3 linked regions of the Homo sapiens genome follow. The protein of the gene in region 2 interacts with the protein of the main gene of each other region in a biochemical or structural test. Each region holds a gene or a part of one and is shown on either strand. Other genes may lie near its edges.

Region 1 (7,742 bases), on a different chromosome or scaffold from region 2:
ATGTTGTTGCAAATGACAAGATCTTCTTTTTCGTGGCTGAATAGTACTTCCATTGTGTGTAAGTACCACATTTTCTTTATCCATTCATCTGTTGACGGACACTTAGGTCGCTTTCAAATTTTGGCTATTATGAATAGTGCTTCAACAAACATGGGAGTGCAGATACCTCTTCGGTACATTGATTTCCTTTCTTTTGGGTATATACCCAGCAGTGGGATTGTTGGATCATGTAGTAGCTCTATTTTTAGTTTTTTGAGGAACGTCCAAATTGTTTTCCATAGTGGTTGTACTAATTTACATTCCCACTATAGAAACTTTAATCTTCTGAATTCTGGTAGTTAAAGATTACGACTAGCTCAACTTGATGTTAAAAAGCTCTTTTTTTTTTTTCTTAAAGTTGACATCTCTCTTAATTGTTGACTTCCTAGTATCACCAGGTTATCTGCTCTCTGTTCCTTGGGCTACTGTATCACCTTTTTTTTTTTTTTTTTTTTTTTGAGACTGAGTCTCACTCTGTTGCTCAGGCTGGAGTGCAATGGTGCGATCTTGGCTCACTGTAACCTCTGCCTCCCGGGTTCAATTCTCCTGCCTCAGCCTCCCCAGTAGCTGGAACTACAGGTGTGTGCCACCATGCCCTGCTAATTTTTTGTACTTTTTAGTAGAGACGGGATTTCGCCATATTGGCCAGGCTGATCTCGAACTCCTGACCTAGTGATCTGCCTGCCTTGGCCTCCCAAAGTGCTGGTATTATAGGCATGAGCCACTGTGCCCGGCCCTACTTGCCTTTCTTAGCTCCTTTGGTACCTCTGCCTGCTCCTTCAATGTTTTCTCCAAGCCTTAAGTGCTGACGGATATTCCTCAGAGTTTTAACTTCTCCCTCTGTATACTCTCCCTGATTGGTCCATCCACTTCATGGCTTCAACTGTCATTTATATAATGATGACATTCATCTGTATTTCTAGCCCAGCTCCTTCGCTGAGCATCAGACTTAACTTTGATTCTGCTGGAAATCTCTATTTGGATGTCCCACAAATACCTCAAACCAATTATACCCCAAACTAACCTTACCTTCCCCTATAAACCAGTTACTTCTCCTTTACTCTCCACCTTGGTTACTGGTACACATCCAAGTCTCCCAAGCTAGGAATCTGGTAAACATCCTGAATGCCTTTTTCCCTCACCATACCACACCCTAATTCTACATCCAATTATCCACCAAGCTCTGCCTTTCTAACCCTTCACTTTTCTTTTCATTCCTATTACCAATACCCTCATTCACATTTTCATCCTCTCACCCGGACAAATTCATGCCACCACTCTCCAAAAGCTAATCTGTTTGCACGCCTGCCAGAATGATCCATCTAGGATATACCATTGTCACTTTTTTCACTTAACTTTCCAATATCTACAGTATATAGTCCAAACTGTAACAACTGTGGTCTGACCTTGTCTACCTCATTCCAGGTTTATCTCTCACCATTCCTCAACTTGCATCTTAATATTCTAGCAAAATTGGACTTTTTTTTTTGAGATGAAGTCTTGCTGTCGCCCAGGTTGGAGGGCAATGGTGCGATCTTGGCTCACTGCAACTTCCGCCTCCTGCGTTCAAGTGATTCTCTTGCCTCAGCCTCCTGAGTAGCTGGGATTACAGGTGCGCACCACCACACCCAGCTGATTTTTGTATTTTTAGTAGAGATGGGGTTTCACCATGTTGGTCAGGCTGGTTTCAAACTCCTGATCTCAGGTGATCCGCCCATCTCAGCCTCCGAAAGTGCTGGGATTACAGGCATGAGCCACCGCGTCTGGCCAAAATGAAACTTTTTTAGTTTCCTGTATGCTGTTTCTTGAGTTCCTTGGCTCATGCCTCTATGCTAACTTCTCAGCCCAATTTACATTCTAAGAGGTCATTTCTTTCATGAATTGCCTTTCATAATCTCTTTGGGTTAGGATAGTTAGATACTCCTTAAATACCCTGAATAAGTTTTATTACCATACTCAACAGGTTATTTTATAATTATTTGATGGTGTCCTGACTAGAGTGTGAACAGATGGTCTCATTTATTTATTTGTTATCATTAGCAAGCAAGAACAGACATTCAATGAATGAATACATTTCTTCAAAGCCCATAATCCAAGTGAATAGCAGGATTCATCTATTCATTCAAGATGTTTCCTGGATTCCAGCTCCATGGTAAGTTTTTAGATTACGGAAGACATTTTTCTTTTTCAAAACCTTCTAACTGCTATTATATTGTTTATATAATAACAAAAGTAATTTTAATCAAACACAAATATATCTACATCACAGGAAACTTTTGAGGTATTAAGCAAGCAAATAAAATGCTTTAAGTCTTTGGCTGGCAAAAACTATTAAACATAATTTTTTCCCCCACAAAGGTGATGTCAGCAAAATTCCACAGATTACATTTTGCGTATTTATTTACAAGATGGTAAGATCATCTTGTAAATAAATACGCAAAATGTAATCTATGGAATAAACTGTTTAAACAAAAAAAGAGAGGCAACATTAGGATTAAAAACTTTCATAAAGAATAGCATTAGCTCAAAAATAGGAATGCCACACTGCAAGAACTGCTTACATAATTAAAAGCAGAAGAACTCAAATATTAGTTATAAATAGACAAAGATCATAAAATAAAATACGTCTGGAACAATCCATTTTAACTAGGTTCTGTATTTCCAGTACAACATACCTGTAGTTTGATTGGGGCACTTTGTCAAGACCTCTGGTGCTCTGAATCCTGGTGTACCTGCCCTAGGGGCAACCTGCTGACGCCTTATGATGAAATAAGATTTCTCTAGTTATGTTAAAGTTGAACTATGTAAGTCTAAAAAATAACATTCATCAATTTAGTTCACAGTAAATTTTGCCTTGATACCTATATAATAAGTGTTACTATAAAGTAAATGATAATCTAGTGTGATAAAAATCCTAGATTTTTCTTCTTCTGTTTTTTACCCCCTCTACTAGTTCCCCGGACTTACTCCAGAAAGGTTTAAAATAACCTCCAAGAATAAAAAGCAGTAGTGGATAATAAGAGCCATAATAGAAAAAATAGAACCCAATAGCAATTCACAGGTATAAAAATTCATTTGTTTGGAGTAATTGATCACAGATACACTTATATATTTGAGTTAATCAAGAAAGGCTTTATGAAAGCCAAGCCTTGAAGGAAAGGAAGAAATTTATGAGTCAAAGAGTTGGAGGTGGGAGTAAAAGAGGAGCTCTACTATTTGGTTCTGGTTACTCCACATAAGCGGGAATAAAAAGAGAAAACAGAAAAGACTACATCAGCAATCAAAATGTGTGATTCTAAGCTTCTAAAAGCCACCCCGTCCCACTTATTTGCATATAAGAGCAAATGTGTTTTCCAGAGTATATCCATATTAAATAAATAATATATGAAAACTGTTATCATTTGCTCTTCAACATACTACTGCTCTGCATCAAGGCCCATTGCAGTTCACTGATCTGAACTGATCCCTTGCACTCACAAAATTATCCACCCAAGTCAATGCAATTTCTAATGGCAGCATGCTGGTGATTTTATAACACCATCAAAACACATTACCTTGAAAGGCAAATACTACAAACTTTATCTGTTGCATAGCAGTCACAGGTCAGGCTAGCTGGGCAAGAACTGGCAGTTTTCCTCATCACAGCACTATTCATAACTTTTGTAGAAATAGCCTTCTTTTTTGTTGCTAACTTTCTAGACAGTACATCCACAGTCTTTGACTGCTTCATGAGCTGTAAAAGAAAAGTCTCATTTTTCTATTTTCATGATATTAAACATGATGTCCTAAAATGCTAGTATGGCAAAAAGCAATAGCGGAAGCATAACTTTAAAAACTGCTGAATGGCTATTGGACTGTAAATAAACTGTTGTCTATTAAAATGTTTAAGGTCTTCTTGGGTTTTTCTGTAAAGTCACCTTATATTAAAATTTACTAATTAGTCCTAGCTTGGCCAATATTTGAGTTATACTTTATTAGAACTTTTCCTGATATATTACAGAAGTATAAAACAGTTATGTTCTAGTGTCTAACTCCATTTCAGAACTGTAAACTGCACAAGTACGTTGGCTAAAATCACAGTTTTAATTTGTTGCTCATGCTGTCTAGCTGTCACAAGATATCATAAGTCAATCTGAAATCATCTACATTGATGATGATTTTGTTAACTTTACAAACATCTTTACACTATCAACTATGTGTCAGAATAGTTAGCTAACTGTATGGAGCTCACACTCTAGCAATGACAGAAAGCCCTTAATGTTCTAAATGTTCCTCTAGAGAAAGACAGTAATAGCTAACCAAAAATGAGAAAAAATTCCACCAGAAAAGTTCAGAAAAAAACTGGAGAAAACAAGTTTTGACTAAATGCTTAAAGCAGTAATACCTTCTGCCAAAGCCAAACTCTAGTTTAAAAAAATTTCTGATAATAAATGTTAATCTAGTTATTACCTAAATTCTCTTCAGTGTATGACTGACTGACCATTATGCTATTAAGCTACATTACTTACTTTCACTGCAGGGCTCTCATGTGAAATGGAGCTGTGTATATTGAAATTTCTTTCTCCAAAAACAGAGCGCTGGACAGAAAGGCCTACAGATCCCTCCTACAATACCAACAAAAACAAGGAAAATAAGGATTATATCTGTAACACTTTCTGCCAGCTGTACTCTGCCATAGTTTTGAAAGAGTTAAGTGAGATGAAACAAAAACAGCTGCATCCAAGTCATTCTCAGGCACCAAACCACTTCTGTGAAAGGAGAAAATAGTCTAGACAGAACTCAACACCCATACAATGTTATCATAGTCCACAAATATATATAACTAAAAAAAAATTCAAAAACCACCTGCATGGATGTTACATTTTGCTGTGCAGCTAAAATGGAGATAGACACTTCAGAATTCCTCCCCTATAACTAATGCTTTCTTTTAAAAAGGATAATTAATCTGAACTTTTTAACATGCAGGGAAAATTTAATATTTTCCATTTTTGTCATAAAATATGATTTCATAATAGTTAATGACAGATGTTATAAACTGACAAAGTAAATTTTAGTTTTAAAATAGTAACCAAAATGATTCAGTACAAATCTTAGTGAAAATTTAATCAAATGAATACATATAACAAATGCAAAAAAAAGTTTTTTAAATTATAAGTACTATCCTAGTATTCTATCTCCCTCTGTTGGTTGAAGGAGTATATTTCTAAAACAGTGTCGGTACTTAAGAAATAAAAGAGATAGAACCTTTCCGTCTTTTCCTTGTTTAATCTGAATTTGTGCATTTGTGTAGGGTCTTTTAACAGAAGCTTTTGTGGTGGACTGCTGATCCAGCTCCTTAGGTACTGGGCCACTCAGTGGAATCTTGTTTCCTGTGATTATGTGGGATTTGTTTTGTGAACACCTTTCCTGCTGAGCTTCAGACTGGACAAATTTAAGAAGCTCTATTTTCGTATCATGGGTTCCTTGGGCCAAACCAAAGTCTACCAAGGCATACCTAAGAGACAAAATTAAGCATTTTTACTTATCTGTAGCAATTAAAGCTTAGTAACATTGTAATACTCTCAAACCATCCTCATAAAAACTGTAATTCTTTTTGGGATCAATTAGGAATTTATAACATTCTGGAAAAAAGAAAAAAAAATAAGTTTTCCAGACAAAGTAAGAATTTAACAGCTAACCAGGATTGAAAATTAAGAGTTGTCCCACAATCAAATTTTCTTTTTCCAGTGGTCTGTGTTAATAAGGCAGAAGAGGAATACATAACATAAACACAGTCCGTTGTTCTCTGATGGTGGCAGAGATGGCATCATAGCAGATAATTTCTAGTTAAGAAAGCTTAAAAAAATTAAAATCATGGTTTTAAAATCTGATCCAATTAAAGAAAATTAAAAAGTCAGGCATATAAAAGCTCAAAAAAGAAGTTATAATATTATTATGTTTAATATGATCCATTATATAGAGGTATTTATGTTATTTTTAGCTTATAATTTCTCTATAATTATAATCAGCATTAAAAAGTATACATAAAAATAAAACTTTTGTGTTAAAACAGGAAATTGGCTATCATGTGGTCCAATCCCCTCACTTACTAGAAAAGAAAAATGAAGTCCAGAGATAAGAGACATGTCTAAGGTCAAAAATTATTAGACTCTAAGTCTGTTAGTTCATGCTATTTCCACTGAACCATAGTACATCTAATAATGTACATTATTCCACTAATACAATTTTATCTTCTTCATCACCAAATTTCCCTTTCCAATCACAAAGAAACTGAAACAGAAATAATCTGTGCATGGCTATTGCAGTATGTTATATTATATCTAAGAGATATAAGTCAGAGGATACAAAGTAGCAGATATGTAGGATAAATAAATCTAGACCTAATGCACACTCTGAAGATTACAGGTAATAAAACTGTACTGTATATGAGATTCATACTAAATGAGTAAATTTTAGCTGCTCTTGCCGTAAAAACAAAAATAAGATGGGTAACTGAGATAAATATTTGCTTCACAATAGTAACTTTTGTACTATATATAACATCATGTTCAATACCTTAAATATAGACAATAAAATTGTTTTTTAAAAGAAATAGGATAAATATTTTCTAGTAACTCTTCATACTTACTTTTTCAGGCGCCTATTATATAAAAAATTGCTGGGCTTAACATCACGGTGAACAATACCAAACTGATGAATGCGTTTCAAAGCTTTGAACAGATTAAGCATATATTCCCGTACTTCTTGAAAGGAAAGAGAATTCAGAATGTCCTAAAACAAAGTTACAAATGAAATGAGTTACAAATATTGTTTGCAATTAAATATTTAGCTAATAAAAATTCAAGAAATATTAAAACCTACCAAAAACGACTCATGCTCCAGATATGGCATAGCAATAACTACATGATCATTCTTCCTAAAGCAGTATTTAACTCCCATGACATTATCTTGCCCCCTAGTGGAAAAATGCACAAGGAACTTTTAGAAGAAAGGTCAGAGGGACTGAAACTTTATGCCTAATTTTAAAAACCGCAATTTTAGCAATGCATACATATTGCTAGAAAACTGACTTAAATCATCATCACATAATATAAACACAAGTGACTTGTGTTCTCGTGTTAAAGTTTTCTTTTAAAACAAAAATGGCACCAGTTTTGAAGTTACTATAATAATTCAAACGAGGTAATTATAGTTGTGACTGGGGAAGCAGCAGAATGAGAAAAAAGGGAAAAGATTAATAAGACTTAGCAGATAAGATGGTAACAGTAATAAATAAATCAAGGTCACTAAACTAATAGATCAATGAGCCAGGATTTGAACCCAGGCATTTTGCTCCAGATATATGTTCTTAATCACTATGTTACACTGCTTCATAAAAGAGGAAAATAGGACAAAGGTGATTTCTATGATTTTGAGCCTGAGTAAGAAAACAATAGAGATACCAAAAAATGAGTAGAGAAGCCAGTAAAAGAAGCATCTAAAACCAGACCTCATCATTTTGATAGAGTTATCTAGACAAGGGACTAAGCCTTAAGTGAGAAGACAAGTGAGAAGTCAGTGAGAGTACCTGCAGAGAAGTGATACCTACAGACATGAAAATTAATAGCGAGAAAAGAAAACTGAGCTTGGAAGAAGCCAAGTTAGAGAGCCAAATAAGAAAGGAATTTTGAAGGAAGAGTTATTAGCATGGAAGTCAAAGAGAA
Region 2 (8,438 bases):
ACGTCACGGCAAGGAAAGGTGTTAAGAGTTAGGTACCAACTGGCCAGGCGCGGTGGCTCACACCTGTAATCCCAGCACTTTGGGAGGCCGAGGCGGGCGGATCACGAGGTCAGGAGTTCGAGACCAGCCTGTCCAACACGGTGAAACCCCATCTCCACTAAAAATACAAAAATTAGCTGGGCCTGGTGGCGCGTGCCTGTAATCCCAGCTACTTGGGAGGTTGAGACAGGAGAATTGCTTGAACCCAGGAGGCAGCGGTTGCAGGAGCCAAGATCACGCCATTGCACTCCAACCTGGGCAAAAGAGTGAGATTCCGCCTCAAAAAAAATAAAAAATAAAAAAGAGTTAGGTACCAACTATGAAGCAAGCAAACCAACCAAACCAGAAATGCAGGACTCCTTAAAGGTTCGGAGATAAAGTAGGGGTTGGGGATGGAGTCTCTCTCAGCTGGGATCTCAGGGATCCCTGCCATCAGGGCATGAGGAGGCCTCCCGATAATCGCTTCCCTCATAGCTTCGGTGACTGACAGGCCCTCTGCGGGTGGTTGTGGCCGCTTTCTGCCATAGGCTCTGGGCCAGCCTGAAGCCTTTACCACTTGTAAATTATCTGAAAAGTTGGGATAATATTGCCTTCAAGTGCATCCCAAAACCTCGAGTCTGTGTTCAGAACAAGATCTAGCGTCCTAAATGCAGGGTTTCCTAAATGTTGCACACTGGGTTCATGTGCTCAGTTGTTTTAGAAAGCGGGCAGGATTGTGCCACCATGATGCCCAACGAGGGGACTTCCCAGTTTGCAGACTAAGCTGTGGACATGGAAACAAACTTAATGGAAACATGTGCTTGTGTCCTGTCCTTTTTTTTTTTCTTGAGACGGAGTTTTGTTCTTGTTACCCAGGCTGGAGTGCAATGGCACGATCTCAGGCCACCGCAACCTCTGCCTCCTGGGTTCAAGCGGTTCTCCCGCCTCAGCCTCCGGCGTAGCTGGGATTACAGGCAAGCGTCACCATACCCAGCTAATTTTCTGTATTTTTAGTAGAGACGGGGTTTCTCCATAATGGTCAGCCTGGTCTTGAACTCTCGACCTTAGGTGATCCACCCGCCTCGGCGTCCCAAAGTGCTGGGATTGCAGGTGTGAGCCACCGCGCCCAGCCATGTGTCCCGTTCTTGCTAAATGGCTCACATCACAGGACGAAATTTTGCAAAGCGGCAGCAGCCTGGAAGAAATTCAAGTGATCGAATGTACACTACAGGATGCCCAATGGGGAGAGACTTCAACTCTGATTTTGGGAGATTGAGTGGTGGATTAGGTAGAAGCTGAAATGTGTACATGCCAGTCTGGCACATTTAGTAACTTAGAAGAGGGTACTAGGCTTAGTACCTGAGTGATAAAATAATCTGTACAACAAACCCCCACGACAAGAGTTTACCTATATAACAAACCAGCACATATAAAACAAAGTAGAAGACTGGGGCGGTGGCTCATGCCTGTAATCCCAGCACTTTGGGAGGCCGAGGCAAGCGGATCACCTGAGGTCAGAAGTTTGAGGCCAGCCTGGCCAACATGGTGAAACCCGTCTCTACTGAAAAGATACAAAAATTAGCCAGGCGTGGTGGTGGGCACCTGTAATCCCAGCTACTCAAGAGGCTGACGCAGGAAAATCGCTTGAACCTAGAAGGTGGAGGCTGCAGTAGGCTGAGACCATGCCATTGCCCTCCAGCCTGGGCGACAGGGTGAGACCATGTCTCAAAAAAAAAAAAAAAAAAAAAGATTTGCACCATTTTTACAACATTTCATAAACCTAAAGAGGAAGCCATTTTTTCCTTTTTCATCTTCTCAGGTGAAAGACAAGAAATGAAGTCATTCAGAAAAATAAATGCTCTTGGCCAAGCACAGTGGCTCACGCCTATAATCCCAGAAACTTGGGAGGCCAAGGCGGGTGGATTACCTGAGGTCAGGAGTTTGAAATCAGTCTGGCCATCATGGCAAAACCCCGTCTCTACTAAAAATACAAAAATTAGCTGGGCATGGTGGCGGGTGCCTCTAATCCCAGCTACTTGAGAGGGTGAGGCAGGAGAATTGCTTGAACCCAAGAGGCGGAGGTTGCAGTGAGCTGAGATGGCGCCATTGTACTCCAGCCTGGGTGACAGAGCAAGACTCTGTCTCAAAAATAAATAAATAAATGGTTCCTTAGAGCTCAAAATCCCGAAAGCGAACAAGGTTGGTGGTTTATGGTCCAGGTGGTCTACTGTACCTGCTTACAGGTACAGATTAAATGACCCATCTCAGGATCTACTACTCTCATATAAAGACCCAACATGAACAAACAAAAGTGCTACAAAACCAAAAACATAAAAAGGCACTGTCTCTTCTGGTTCTACATACTTAAGATAAAAAGTAAAAAATTATAAAATCAAAAGACACCACTAAACACCGTGGGACTCGTGACTGATTTTATCAGTTTGGTCCCTAAGACCTTAAGGACACCATTGTGCTAATAAAAAATCAATAACAGAGACAGACCATGCAAAAGTCCCCCTTATGGGGTCCTTAAAAATGGTTCCAGATGGGGTCTCGCTCTGTCACCCAGGCTGGAGCGCGGCAGTGTGATCATAGCTCGCTGCGGCCTCCAACTCCTCAGCTCAAGTGATCCTCCTGCCTCAGTTTCCCAGGTGGCTGGGACTACAGGCATGTGCCACCATGCCTGGATAACTTTTAAAAATTTTTTTGCAGGGCTGGGTGCAGTGGCTCATGCCTATAATTCCAGCACTTTGGGAGGCCAAGACGGGCAGATTACTTGAGGTCAGAAATTCAAGACCAGCCTGGCCAAGATAGTGAAACCCTGTCTCTACTAAAAATATAAAAATTAGCCAAGTGTGGTGGTGCGCACCTGTAATCCCAGCTATCAGGGATGCTGAGGCAGGAGAATCGCTTGAACCTGGGAGGTGGAGGTTGCAGTGAGCCGAGATCACGCCACTGAACTCCAGCCTGGGTGATAGAGTGACTCTGTCAAAAAAAAAAAAAAAAGTAATTTTTTTTCATAGAGATGGTGTCTATGTTGCCCAGGTTGGTTTTGAAGTGATCTTCAAGCGATCCTCCCACCTCGGCCTCTCAAAGTGCTGGGATGACAGGCATGAGCCACTGTGCCTGGCCCCAGGTAAGGTTTTTAAGATGGCTGGCTGTGCTGACCCTACAGAATTCCCCAAGTCATGCTTCCTGCCGTCTCACTGCCACTTCAGTGCTCAGTGTCTTTGCAGCCCCGTCCCTACATTTCTATGCTTAGACAGGAAGGGCACAGAGAAAGCTGGACCTCGAATCTGAAGTGAGGGGTTACAGCACCAGCTCAGATCCTAATTCCCTAAAACGGCTAAGCTATCACTGATTAGATGTGAACAACGAAGGCAAAACAGCAGGGTGTTATTCACACAGTACACCAGGTACACTGTTGATGAATTAAGTCCCAGGGGCATCACAACGAATGCAGAACTGAACACTGTGAGTTTTGATACCAGGAAGAACTCCACGTCGAGTCCCAGGACCCAGCCCGTGGCCCCGCTCACTCTGCCACAAAACACCTGGGTGACCCAGTGGAGACTGACAGCGCTCTGAGATCCGTGAGCACTGATGTGCAGGGACTCCATGGGAGATACTCACTCTGCGGAGGGGCGTGGAGGTGGGGAAGGGACTGGTACTGCTGTGCTGCTTTGGGGGAGCAGGCGGCCCCTCGGGCGAGCTGGTGGAAGAGGGAGAGCTCAGGGACGAATGGCTGAGTACAGAGTCTTCTTCGGGGAAAGATTCCAGCACCTCACTCTCAGGGGTCATGTTCTTGCCTTGGGGTGTGGCTGGAAGGGACTTGATTTGCGGTGGTCTCACAGCCAAGATGTCCTGCAAGACCACCATAGGCACCTTCCCTTTGAACAGGATGCCCCCAGCTTCACTCCAACTGTCCTGCTCCTTTCTGGGGCACATTCTCGGGCCACTCGTCAGCTCCGGGCAGCTCCGTGGCGAACATTCCTGGGAGTCGCCTCTCCTCCCTGCACCTCCACAGCCAACACCCTCCTCCTCTGTTTTGCAAGGAATGTCTGAAAGGGTCTCTCCAGGAAATGCCAACTTGTCGTTCTGAATGGCCTTCAACAACCCCTGCTGATCCCCAGTGTCTTCTCGCTGGCCATTTATTGCCTCCCTGGAGGGAGAGGCTTCAGAATTTAGTTTATTGTGGTCCACAAGACTGTCTGGCTGCTCATTCGAGTCCTCTGTCAAATCAATGATGACTGTGCTCTGGCCAATACTGGTTTCGATTCTATTTCTTAAAAAGTTATCTAAGGGACCCTTCCCGTTGACAAGTTTCGGTCTAAAGTCTATGTCAGAACCCACATGACAGTTGTTTTCCAAGGTGTCCAAAGAGGCCTCTAAATCGGGGCTTTTACTTTGCACAGAAGTACCCTGATCGTCTGACATGTCATCGGCTTTCCCCTTTGGGACAAGATTCAGGCGCTTAAACGGCAGACGGGCTGAAACAAAGACAGAAAGCCATCTCTAGTGAACGTTTAAAGTTACAACCACTCATGAGCTTGAAAATTACTGATTTGTTGGGACATGGGGGTGGGAGATAATTTTAAAGTTTAAAAAGGGACTATCTGGGCCGGGTGTGGTGGCTCATGCCTGTAATCCCAGCACTTTGGGGAGGCCGAGGCAAGCAGATCACAAGGTCAGGAGTTTGAGACCAGCCAGACCAAAATGGTGAAACCCCGTCTTTTCTAAAACTACAAAAATTAGCCAGGCCATGGTGGCACACGCCTGTAATACCAGTTACTGAGGAGGCTGAGGTAGGAGAATCGCTTGAACCTGGGAGGCAGAGGTTGAAGTGAGCTGAGATCCCAACACTGCACTGTAGCCTGGGCGACAGAGACAGACTCCCTCTCAAAAAAAAAAAAAAAAAAAAAAAAAAAAAAGGCCGGGTGCGGGAGGCCAAGGCAGGCGGATCACAAGGTCAGGAGATCGAGACCATCCTGGCTAACACGGTGAAACCCCGTCTCTACTAAAAGTACAAAAAATTAGCCGGGTGAGGTGGCGGGCGCCTGCATTCCCAGCTACTCGGGAGACTGAGGCAGGAGAATGGTGTGAACCCGGGGGGCGGAGCCTGCAGTGAGCTGAGATCACGCCACTGCACTCCAGCCTGGGCGACCTGAGCGAAACTCTCAAAAGAAAAAAAAAAAAAAAAGACGGGGCAGGGGCTATCTGAAGCCAGGTACACTGACTTACATCTATAATCCCAGCACTTCGGGAGGCTGAGGCAGGAGGATCGCTTGAGCCCAGGAGGTAGAGGCTGCAGTGAGCTGTGGTGGTGCAACTACTCTGCAGCCTGGGCAAAAGGGACCTCGTCTCAAAAAAAAAGAGGGGGTGGGGGGTGCTATCTTTTCATTCTATCCTTTTCTAACATCCTAATTTTACTTATTTTTTTTTCTTTTGGAGACAGTCTTGCTCGTCACCCATGTTGGAGTGCAATGGCGCCACCTCAGCTCACTGCAACCTCCACCTCCTGGGTTCAAGCTATTCTCCTGCCTCAGCTTCTCAAGTAGCTGGGATTACAGGCATGCACTACTACACCCAGCTAATTTTTGTATTTTTAGTAGAGACAGGGTTTCGCCATGTTGGCCAGGCTGGTCTCAAACTCCTGACCTCAGGTGATCTGCCCGCCTCCACCTCCCAAGGTGCTGGGACTACAGATGTGAGTCACCATGCCCCGCTTCAACATCCTAACTTAAAAAACAAAATCCTGACAAGCCTTTTAGCAGAGCCATCGCCAGAATTTCAAGAGACATTTGTTTATTTCAGATGCAGTTCATATTCCAAATTTATTTTTAATGGGTGAAAATCTCATTTGATAATAACTGCATCTGGTTCTCAAGTAGAAAATATAGACACATTTGTGGACAGGGTTTTTTTTTTTTCTCCTGGCCTCAGCACCCTAGGCTCTGTTAGGCTTTTCTCATCAATCAAACTGTTCTCCCAGAGTCTGCCAGGCTTCGGGCTGGTTAGGAGGAACACAGAAACACTTTGGAGAGTGAATTTCCCAAAGAACCTATGTTCACTTACTTCAATGCCATTGCATCTTTTATTAACTATTTCATCATGTAATAGACCAAATAAAAACCTGTTTTTTTTTGGGGGGGGTGTGGGGGGAGTTGTTTGTTTTGAGACAGAGTCTTGCTCTGTCACCAGGCTGGAGTGCAGTGGCGCACCCTTGGCTCACTGCAACCTCTTCCTTCCGGGTTCAAACAATTCTCTTGCCTCGGCCTCCTGAGTAGCTGGGACTACAGGTGCCCCCTACCATGCCCAGCTATTTTGTATTTTAGTAGAGACGGGGTTTCACCATGTTGGCCAGGCTGGTTTCAAACTCCTGAGCTCAGACAATCCGCCCACCTTAGCTTCCCAAAGTGCTAGGATTACAGGTGTGAGCCTAGCATCTGGCGTCCCCCTTTTTTTCAAGAGACAGAGTCTTCCTCTGTCATCCAGGCTGAAGAGCAGTGGTGTCATTATAATTCACCGCAGCCTTGAACTCCTGGACTCAAGCACTCCTCCCACCCCAGCCTCTCAAATAGCTGGTTTTACAGGTATGCAACACTGCACCCAGCCCAAGTTTGAAAAACCCAAAACTGTAGTTTCTAAAAATACAATCTGGGCCGGGTGCGGTGGCTCACACCTGTAATCCCAGCACTTTGAAAGGCTGAGGCAGGGGGATCACAAGGTCAGGAGATCGAGACCATCCCGGCCAACATGGTAAAACCCCATCTCTACTAAAAATAGAAAAATTAGCTGGGTGTGGTGGCACGCGCCTGTAATCCCAGCTACTTGGGAGGCTGAAGGAGGAGAATTGCTTGAACCCAGGAGGCGGAGGTTGCAGTGAGCAGAGATCGCACCACTGCACTCCAGCCTGGGCAACAGAATGAGACTCCGTCTCAAAAAAAAAAAAAAAAAAATTACAATCCAACCGCTCATCTGGCCCAAGGGTGAACACACTCCCCGTTTTATGCAGAAGGATTTGGGAGCATTTATCTTCCAGGACAACAGTGGTTCTCTGAGGGGGCAGTTCTACCTCCCAGGGGACATCAGCCACGTATAGAGATATTTTTGGTTGTTACGACTTGGAGGATGCACTTACTGGCATCCGGTGGGAAGAGGCCAGGGATGCTGCTACGCTCCCTACAACATACAGGAGAGCTCCCAGCTGCAAGTTACAAAACACCAATCGTGCATAAGTGGAGGCCTCGGGGTTTACTTGTGGGAACCCCACGAGACATTACTGTGTGAAAAGCATTTTCCCAGCTTCCTGGTCTGAAGAAGGACTGTTTCTCTCCCCTCTAGCTCCAGGCTTCCACTGAGGTCTCCAACAAGAGACAAGGAAGACTATAAACTACGAACAACTCTTTAACCCATTTCCAAATAATTACCTTGTATTAACTTCTTAACTGGAAAAGCTGGTCTATCTTTGCAATCCATGGCTGCAAATAAAAGTGTCAAAGGGTAAACTGTTAAATTCTGCAAATAATCAAGTTAGCAAATACATATGTAGAGCCAATTATGTACAAGGTGGAGGCAATTCTGACCCCTCTGTCCTCGGGGGCCATTTGACACAGTCTAGAGATGTTTTTGGTTGTCATGATGCAGGGAGGGCTCAAAGGGATGCTATTCACATCCAGTGGGTAGAGGCCAGGGATTCTGCTAAATGTCCCACAATGCAATGCACAGCACACCACAATGAAGAATTATATGGGCCAAAAAAAAAAAATTTTTTTTTTTTTTTTGGAGACAGAGTCTCACTCTGTCGCCCAGGCTGGAGTGCAATGGCACAGTCTCAGCTCACTGCAACCTCCGCCTCCTGGGTTCAAGCGATTCTCCTGCCTCACTCTCTCAAGTAGCTGGGACTACAGGCGCATGCCACCACTCTCGGCTAATTTTTGTATTTTTAGCAGAGACGGGGTTTCACCATGTTAGCCAGAATGGTCTCGAACTCCTGACCTCGTGATCCACCCGCCTCAGCCTCCCAAAGTGCTGGCCACGGCGCTTGGCCTCAAAATGTTAATAGGTTGAGAAATCCTACCCTAGACACTGTCATGTCTTGTTTTATTTTCTTTGTGGCATTTAATCTGAAACTTTCGTGTTTATTACGTCTCTCTGGAAACAAAATGCCAACTCTATGACAGCAGAAAGACTTGTTCCATGCTGCACCTATGGTACCTGGTTAGGGTCTGGAATAAATCAGAAAGCCAACTAAGAGAGTAACCGGAACTGTTTCATGAAATGAAAGTGGAATGAGTAAAAGTAGGGAGGAGAGAAAACATCAGATTACCTATTTCATTCCCATGATCCCCAAACATCTTCCTCCAACCCAAGCCCCCATACCACCACCAAATCTGTAAAATCAGAAAAGGGATCCTTTT
Region 3 (7,742 bases), on a different chromosome or scaffold from region 2:
ACAGATGACGGGAAGTGGCCAGACCATGCAGCACCTTGTTGGTCTTATTAAAGATTTGGGACTTTATCCTAGGAACAATGGTGAATTTTAAGTATGGGGTGACATTACATGTGTGTTTTGATAAGATCATTCTAGTTGAAGGTCACAGCATGGCTTCAAGAAGACTAGACTATGATACAGGGAGATCAGTGGCAAGCAACAGAGCATGTTTTAAACAGACAAGACTTGTGATGATGATGGATGGAAAGAGGATCATGAGTGTGTGTGTGTGGGCAGTGGTGGGCAAGGGACAGAGGACATGGGTTCCCTTTGGACTTAAGAGTAGGGCACTTTTGGAGCACCCAGGTGGAGACATCAGGTGGGTCTCAAGCTTACTCAAGCAGTAAACTTCAAACCTCAGAGAGCAGCACGCAGTACCTGCAGCTGTCAGTGAGGAAGGACAAATTTCCAACTGGAGAGAATACAGGATAAGAATGCCCAGCGCCCAAGTTTGACTAAGTCAATACTTCATGGCTAAACAGGAGAGCAACAGGACACCAGAAACTGAGCAGTGACTAGAGCCGTAGAAGATATACCAGAGAAAGGGAGAGCATCTATCATAAAGTCAAGAATGCTGAATCCCAGCCGGGCGCAGTGGCTCACGCCTGTAATCCCAGCACTTTGGGAGGCCGAGGCAGGCAGATCACTTGAGGTCAGGAGTTCGAGATCAGCCTAGCCAACATGGTGAAACCCCTTCTCTACTAAAAATAAAAAAGTTATCCGGGCGTGGTGGTGGACACCTGTAATCCCAGCTACTCGGGAGGCTGAGGCACGAGAATCGCTTGAACCCAGGAGGTCGAGGTTGCAGTGAGCTGAGATCAAGCCACTGCGCACTCCAACATGGGCCACAGAGTGAGACTCTGTCTGGGAAAAAAAAAAAAAAAAAAGAATGCTGAATCCCGCCACTGAGACATCATGCAAGATAAGAAATGAAGGCTGTTGGGATTCTTGGCACTATTTAGGAAGCAAACCAGACTTCACGTGGTGGAGTAAGAGAGGTGACAGGATGGAGAAGATAGACAATTCAGAAAGTTTAGGGAGTAGGGAGAAGAGTGGGATGGGCAGTAACTACAGCGCAACACGGGATCAATTAGAGTCTTTGCTTTAAGATGGGAGAAGCATCCCCAGCTGGAGAAGAATCCAAAGGACAGGAGTGGCTAGGTGCCCAGGAGGAACAAGGGAACTGAGGGAGGGATGGACAAGACAAGAAGACCACTGAACTGGGAGGGATTAAGGCAGGTTCAGCCTCACAACTACTTAAGAAACCAGGAGGTTTCCATTTTCTGTGAAGAGGACGTCCTGGCCGGGAGGGAAGGGGTGGAGGCCTGAAATAGCTGCTGAGGGCAGTAAGAAAAAGAGTTGCCCAGAAGAGGGACGAGTCACTTACCCTCAGTAGAAACTACCTAGAGTCCAATGTCAGGACTGTAGTGAATTCCTAGTGGGAAAAAGTAACTCCTGGTAACTTTGAATCTCTAGCTTCTAAACCTCCTTTCCCATTGAAAGAAAATGGTTACTTTTGTATGTAATGTGTCTGCGGATAATGTAAGTTGGGTTTTTTTGAGACCGAGTTTCGCTCGTTGCCCAGGCTGGAATGCAGTGGCACGATATCGGCTCACACTGCAACCTCCGTCTCCCAGGTTCAAGCGATTCTCCTGCCTCAGCCTCCAGAGTAGCTGGAATTACAGGCACCTGCCACGACACCCGGCTGATTTTTTTTTTTGTATTTTTAGTAGAGACAAGGCCAGCCTGTTCTTGAACTCCTGGCCTCAGGTGCTCTGCCTGTCTTGGCCTCCCAAAGTGCTGGAAGTACAGGCGTGAGCCACTGCGCCTGGCCCTAAGTTGTTTTTTTTTTTTTTAAGTGAATGCCAGGTATGGTATTCTAGCTATGGTGTTCTAACGGCAACAACAGCTAACATTTCTTGAGAGCTTACTGTGTGCCAGACAGTGCGGCAGGCACTATTACAACCTCATTTTGCGGAGACAAAAAGGGAAGGTGCCCTGAGAGGGGCGTGCCCAAGTGCCACAGTTGGAAGTGGCGGAAGCAGGACATACCCCCACGCAGTCTATGTGGGGGAAACCAGGTGCACTGTCCTCTCTCCACAATCTTCCCTGACCCAGCATGCAAAGTGTGCAATGCACTGAAGGATGGGGCCCTGGGTGACAAGAGTGTGGAGAAGGGGCTGGGGGAACATGGCTGATGGGGGGCCACTGGCACCAGGAACGTTGGAAGGCACCCGTCTGGGGTAGGAGCCTAGGATTGAGTCCTTATGCTGAGAAGGTTGGAGGGGAGAGAAGCAAGACATAAGGAGAGCAGCTGGAGAAGATGGGATGGGCTGGTTTAAAACAGAAGTCATGATTGACCCTCAGTGGAGAGGCCTCACAAAGGTACCAAGGGCATCCTCTCATTCCCCCAAACAAAACTACAAGTATTGAGTATAAAGAAACCTTAATATTCATCTTTTAATGGCTTTCAAACATTAACAAATAATGAAACTAATTTGTAGGTCCAAGCCAGTCAGTTTTCTTTTTAATGAATAAAAGTGTTTTACATGTAGTGAGGGAGGAGCATGGTGTCGGTTTTTCACAAAACACAGGAATGCGTGTACATACCAGGGAGTGGAGTAAAATGTATTTCTCACTACTAGGAGCAGAAAGTTCGAAAGCCACTGATCTAATTCAACACTCCCATTTTAGAATTTCAGAATGGAGAAAACAGAGGCTCAAAGAAGCCAAACAACTTGTCCAACTTACTTAATAGCAAAGCCGAGAAGAGCATCCAAGTCTTTAATAGTTCTCTGGTAATTTCCTCACCAAACCAGAATCTCCAAATGTAAATACCTCTGGGAAAAACAGTGCTGACTTTAATCCACATTAGAGTAAATAACAGTGGAGTAGTAAGTAAGCTGATCTTTTAGATCTGCTGCCTGGAGCAAGTTTTGGTAAAGGAAACAGTAGCTGAATGAATTCAGGGGGCAGCTGTGGAGCTAAAACAAAATAAATCTGAGGGAAAGCACTGGGTTGCAGGGTGTGGCCCAGCAGGCCCAGGACAGGGCTTGGTGTGGTAGAATAAAGGGACTTTTATCTTCCTTAGAGTCTGTATATCATCAGGACAACTAGTTCTAGACAAGGAGGCTGCTTCCATGTCTGAGAAGGTGGCTCAGGGCCATGGTGCTTTGCTCATCTAGTTTCAACAAATTTTATTAAATGAGAAGTTCTGAATAACAGATGCCTTCACAAATCTCTGTCCCTGCCAGACTCCATCTCTTTAATGAAAACATCATTGTTGGGTATTTATCATTTGTTGTATAATTCTATTTCAAAGCTATAGAAGATTCAGAGTCAGGTCCATGTTTCTCTACTTGAAGGCAGTGGTGCTGGGGGACTGGGAGAGGGTAGTTCCTAGGAGACCAGAGAACTAGCTAGAGTAAGGGATGGACTGCCAAAACAAAGAGGAGGGATGCTGGTGGCAAACATTTCTAAAGGAATGCCTCTCTAGACACCAGAGCTATGAGCCTCCTCTTAAACTAAGTTAGAATTCAGGCCAGACAATTGGGCCACGTTCATTGGGCCAGGGCCCAATCACCAACAAGCTCCCGGCTCCTTTCCTAAGTGACTGCACCAAAATAGCAAAGGCATGAGATGTCTAAAGAGTATCCTACACAATTTCCAGGAAGTTTTTTTTTTTTTTTTTTTGAGACGGAGTCTCGCTTTGTCCCCCAGGCCGGAGTGCAGTGGCACGATCTCTGCTCACTGCAAGTTCTGCCTCCCGGGTTCACGGCATTCTCCTGCCTCAGCCTCCCGAATAGCTGGGACCACAGGCACCCGCCACCATGCCCGGCTAATTTTTTGTATTTTTACTAGAGACGGGGTTTCACCGTGTTAGCCAGGATGGTCTTGATCTCCTGACCTCGTGATCCACCCGCCTCGGCCTCCCAAAGTGCTGGGATTACAGGCGTGAGCCACTGCACCCAGCCTCCAGGAAGTTTTTTATTTCAATGTGATGTAATTAATTTGGACCCAAGCTCTGGGATGGACAGCTCTGAAAGCTCAAGCAGATGTCTTTCCAATGGTATTGAAGAAGGGGGCCAGGCACGCTGGCTCACACCTGTAATCCCAGCGCTTTGGGATGCCAAGGTGGGCAGATCACTTGAGTCCAGGAGTTTGAGACCAGCCTGGGCAACACGGCAAAACCCCGTCTCTACAAAAATTATAAAATAAATAAATAAAAAAGGAAACAAGTCTCATACTGCTATGGGGAAAGAAAAAAAAAAAGAAAGATGGCCAACTGTGTAAGTCTAGAGTAAGCCACCTTGAGAGGCTGGTGGTGCAGCAGCAGCAGGAAAGAGGGAATTGGGGCTGTGGTGTGCTGTCATAACACAGGCTGCTGTTATGGGGACTAGGATTTGTCCCCTTGAATTTATCTCCTCCTCCCCTTGACCTGGCCAATTTTATAACCATTCCTTCCGTTCATTAGCTCAGGCACAAGACGCTAGAGGGAAAAACTTCTGAAACTCAAAGCCACTATGCTGCTGGTTCATTCCCCAGGAAACACGCATGGTAGAAAAGCAGCAGGCCAAAAACTAGAGATTCCAGGATTATCTGTCATTTTCAAAGATCTGGGCTCTGAAAGGCTGATGTGAGCCACTGGGTGCACAGCTGCCCCGCCTTTGGTTCAAGCCTCAAAGCTCTAACCGTTGCAACCCAAAGCTCTTTCTATCTCTGAGATGACATCTAGAACCTAAGAGTGACCATTCAACTACAAGATACACAGAAGGCTTTGACATGTTCTGAGTACACAACGAAGAATTTCAGCTGGCTATACAGAACTCTAGACGAGAAGTGCTTCATACTAAACCAGTAACAAGGATAATTTCTCTTCCTATGGAGGTTCCTGGGTTGAGGCTGATTTCCACTAGGCACCAATTACTTACAGGGCACAGAACACATAAAAGGACTTAAAAAGACCCTGAGAGTACCACCCAAATATATGGCTTGCCATTTGCTTAAACAAAGCAAAACACTAGATCCCTGGGGCCCACCCTCCAATCTACTGAACCACCTTTTCAGCAAACCTCTTCTGCAAAGGGGGCAGATAGTAAACTTTATCAAGAGCCAAAATTAAGAACACTACATAGGGACTTTTATAACAAGAGAAAAATCTAACACATTTCCACAATTCTTTTATTGATAAAGTTCAGAATATATTGAGTACAATTTTTTTTTTGTAACGAGATCTGTTAACGAGACAAGTGGATTTCTTATTTTTTGGGAGAATAACATTTCAAGTCATTGGGATTCAAAGAGTGTTCCATACCATCAAATTGACTGCAACGTTTATATGTACAAATAATTCTTAGCTCATGACTGTACAAAAATTGGGAGCTCAGTTATAGTTTGGTGATTGCTGTGGTACTCCTGTGATTGGGGTGGAGCCCAGGAATCTGCATTTTACATGCCTCTCACGTGATTCTGGTAATGGGCCATGGACCCAATGGACTATCCAATCCTCGGAATCTCTGTCCACCAAAGGGGCCTGTGGTTTTGCAGTGCGAGAACCCGGCTGTGCCACCTACCAGTTGCTCAACCTCTCCAAAAATCAGATGATTCATCCTCACAACAGGGGTGGCATTGCACTGCTTGGCCTACCCTTAAAGAGTTGCTGGGATGATTAAGTGAGATGATCCATGAGGTGCTATGAGCATACTATGTCCCAGATACTAAAGACATGCCAGTTATGTTGAGTTTTTTTGGCTGCAGATGCAGACTGCCTGAGCAGCTCCTGCTTGTCTTCTCCTTACTCAAAATGTGTCCCCCAGCACCTTGAAGGCCAGATCCACTTCAACCTAACCCACTGTGATGTGCTAAAGCAAACTCAGTGCAAGGCTTCATAAAATGATAATCCACAGCCCCTGGTCCTGAACCTCCTGGCCCTCTAATATCTCCAACCAGGATGCTATCCACTCTTCATTTCAGCGTCTTCAATAATAGAAAACTCATTCTCTTTCTACGGTGGCACCACTCCAAAGCTGGAGAAGAAAAAGCTCTTCCTTACAGTATCTTAAGAAAAAAAGGGTGTTTCAAAGGAGGCAGTAGAGTGTAGAGGTTGAGTATGCAGACTGGCTGAGTTTGAATCCTGGTTCTGCCACTCACTGGTCACATGATAACCCCTGTATGCCTCAATTTCCATATGCACAATGACGATGATAATAATAATACCTACCTCATAGTGCTGTTGTGGGGACTAAATTAGTTGATACATGTAATCCACTTAAGAAATGTGCCAGACACAGCGTGGTTGCTATGTAAGCACTAGCTAATATTGTTATTATCCTAAACCATGGAGGAGCTCAAAGTAATGCCTGGAAGCACCCTGATATGTCTCCGAGACTAAAACTGTCATATAGACAGCATATACTGAGGGCCATATCAAACCAATTTTGTCATCATTTACTGATTAAATAGGATTATTCCGTTTTACAGGTGAAGAAACAAAGCTTCAAAAAGGTAGGTTAAGCTCACCAGCCCAAGGTCACAAGGGCAGGTAAACGTATCCTACCTCCTTGTGGCAGGAGGAATTCAAACCCAGGTCTGTGTAATTCCTAAGCCCATCTTCATCATGGAGCCCCTCAGACTCGAAACTACTATCAGCAGCAGAACTCAACTGACTATGACCACAGGGGAACTCAGGCTCAATTTTCTGCCTGCGAGTTCCTGGTTGGCTTGCATAAACTGTAGTTAATATCATGCTACTTGAACCCAATTAGGCAGTAAGTCAGCCTGGAAAACATCATGCGATGTATTCCAAAGGTCAAAGTAAAAGCTGGCTTCCAAGGCAGCCTCTGCTGGACACTGCCATGAAAGTTAGTTTCTGCACAGATACCAGAGTTCAGCTCGTGAGGTGCTTAACCAGCACCTATATCGGCTTTTTAAAATTCTCAGAGATGCCAGCATCGGAGGACCCGACGCGACGAATTGCCTGGCTCCTAAGTCAACATCCGGAGAAAGGCGGTTTACTTTTTTCAAAAGCAAACCTTCATCCCTCTCTTTCGCTTTAGGATCTCATTACTATTGTAGCTGCCTTCTCCCAGGCAAAAATAAAAGGGGGAAGGAGCAGGTTTAGACCGAGGAGGAGGGTTCCCCTAGCCTGCAGGGCGCTGCAACATCCACCTGAAACACGGAGCTCGACCTACCTTCCCGGAGAGCCCAGCCCGGGAGGGCGTTTCCCCAACGGATCGACAACTCTTCCCTCCCGGGGAACAGGCTGCTGTCCTTGGCTTCAGTCAGGGCCACTAGAGTCGCGTGCGCGACACCCCTCACCCCCGCCAAAAGAACCTCATGTTTAATGTTCCCCTTACTCTATCACTTCCGCCGAAAGAGCAAACACCAGAGCGATCGGTTAGTCCTTAAGGCCACATTTAACTACGTCTGAGCGCCTGCAGGAGGAACGGCGAAACCCCGGAGAGGAGGCGGGGGAGGCAGGGAGCGCGTGGGGGGGGGCATTTGCACAGAGGATCGTCGTCCTCCCGGCGCCGCGGCCGCCGTGACTCTCCAGCACAGCCTCAGGCCGTTGGCGCGGGGCGGAAACCCCCATCGGGGCTCATAGCACAACTGGGGGTCCCCAAAGCCGGCTCCCCCTGCCTCCTCCGCGCGGGAGGCCGTCGGGGTGATGGCGCAAGACTCCGCTCCCCCCGCCCCCCACAGCG

Evidence for each region.
Region 1: of the proteins of CHAF1A (region 2) and CDC7, one has a biochemical effect on the other in vitro, tested with the Homo sapiens proteins (one study listed by BioGRID).
Region 3: the proteins of CHAF1A (region 2) and ANP32A form a complex in vitro, tested with the Homo sapiens proteins (one study listed by BioGRID).

What each region holds. Positions count from the first base shown.
Region 1 is NC_000001.11:91,510,849-91,518,590, reverse strand, and holds part of CDC7 (cell division cycle 7-related protein kinase), read right to left. Parts: intron 6,995-7,742; coding exon 6,901-6,994; intron 6,811-6,900; coding exon 6,668-6,810; intron 5,534-6,667; coding exon 5,284-5,533; intron 4,644-5,283; coding exon 4,548-4,643; intron 3,773-4,547; coding exon 3,594-3,772; intron 2,850-3,593; coding exon of another isoform or gene 2,840-2,849; exon of another isoform or gene 2,798-2,839; coding exon 2,715-2,797; intron 59-2,714; exon of another isoform or gene 1-58. UniProt on the Homo sapiens protein: Kinase involved in initiation of DNA replication. Phosphorylates critical substrates that regulate the G1/S phase transition and initiation of DNA replication, such as MCM proteins and CLASPIN.
Region 2 is NC_000019.10:4,404,973-4,413,410, reverse strand, and holds part of CHAF1A (chromatin assembly factor 1 subunit A), read right to left. Parts: intron 7,500-8,438; coding exon 7,449-7,499; intron 4,509-7,448; coding exon 3,652-4,508; intron 2,907-3,651; exon of another isoform or gene 2,888-2,906; intron 1-2,887. UniProt on the Homo sapiens protein: Acts as a component of the histone chaperone complex chromatin assembly factor 1 (CAF-1), which assembles histone octamers onto DNA during replication and repair.
Region 3 is NC_000015.10:68,810,156-68,817,897, forward strand, and holds part of ANP32A (acidic leucine-rich nuclear phosphoprotein 32 family member A), read right to left. Parts: intron 1-7,742. UniProt on the Homo sapiens protein: Multifunctional protein that is involved in the regulation of many processes including tumor suppression, apoptosis, cell cycle progression or transcription. Promotes apoptosis by favouring the activation of caspase-9/CASP9 and allowing apoptosome formation.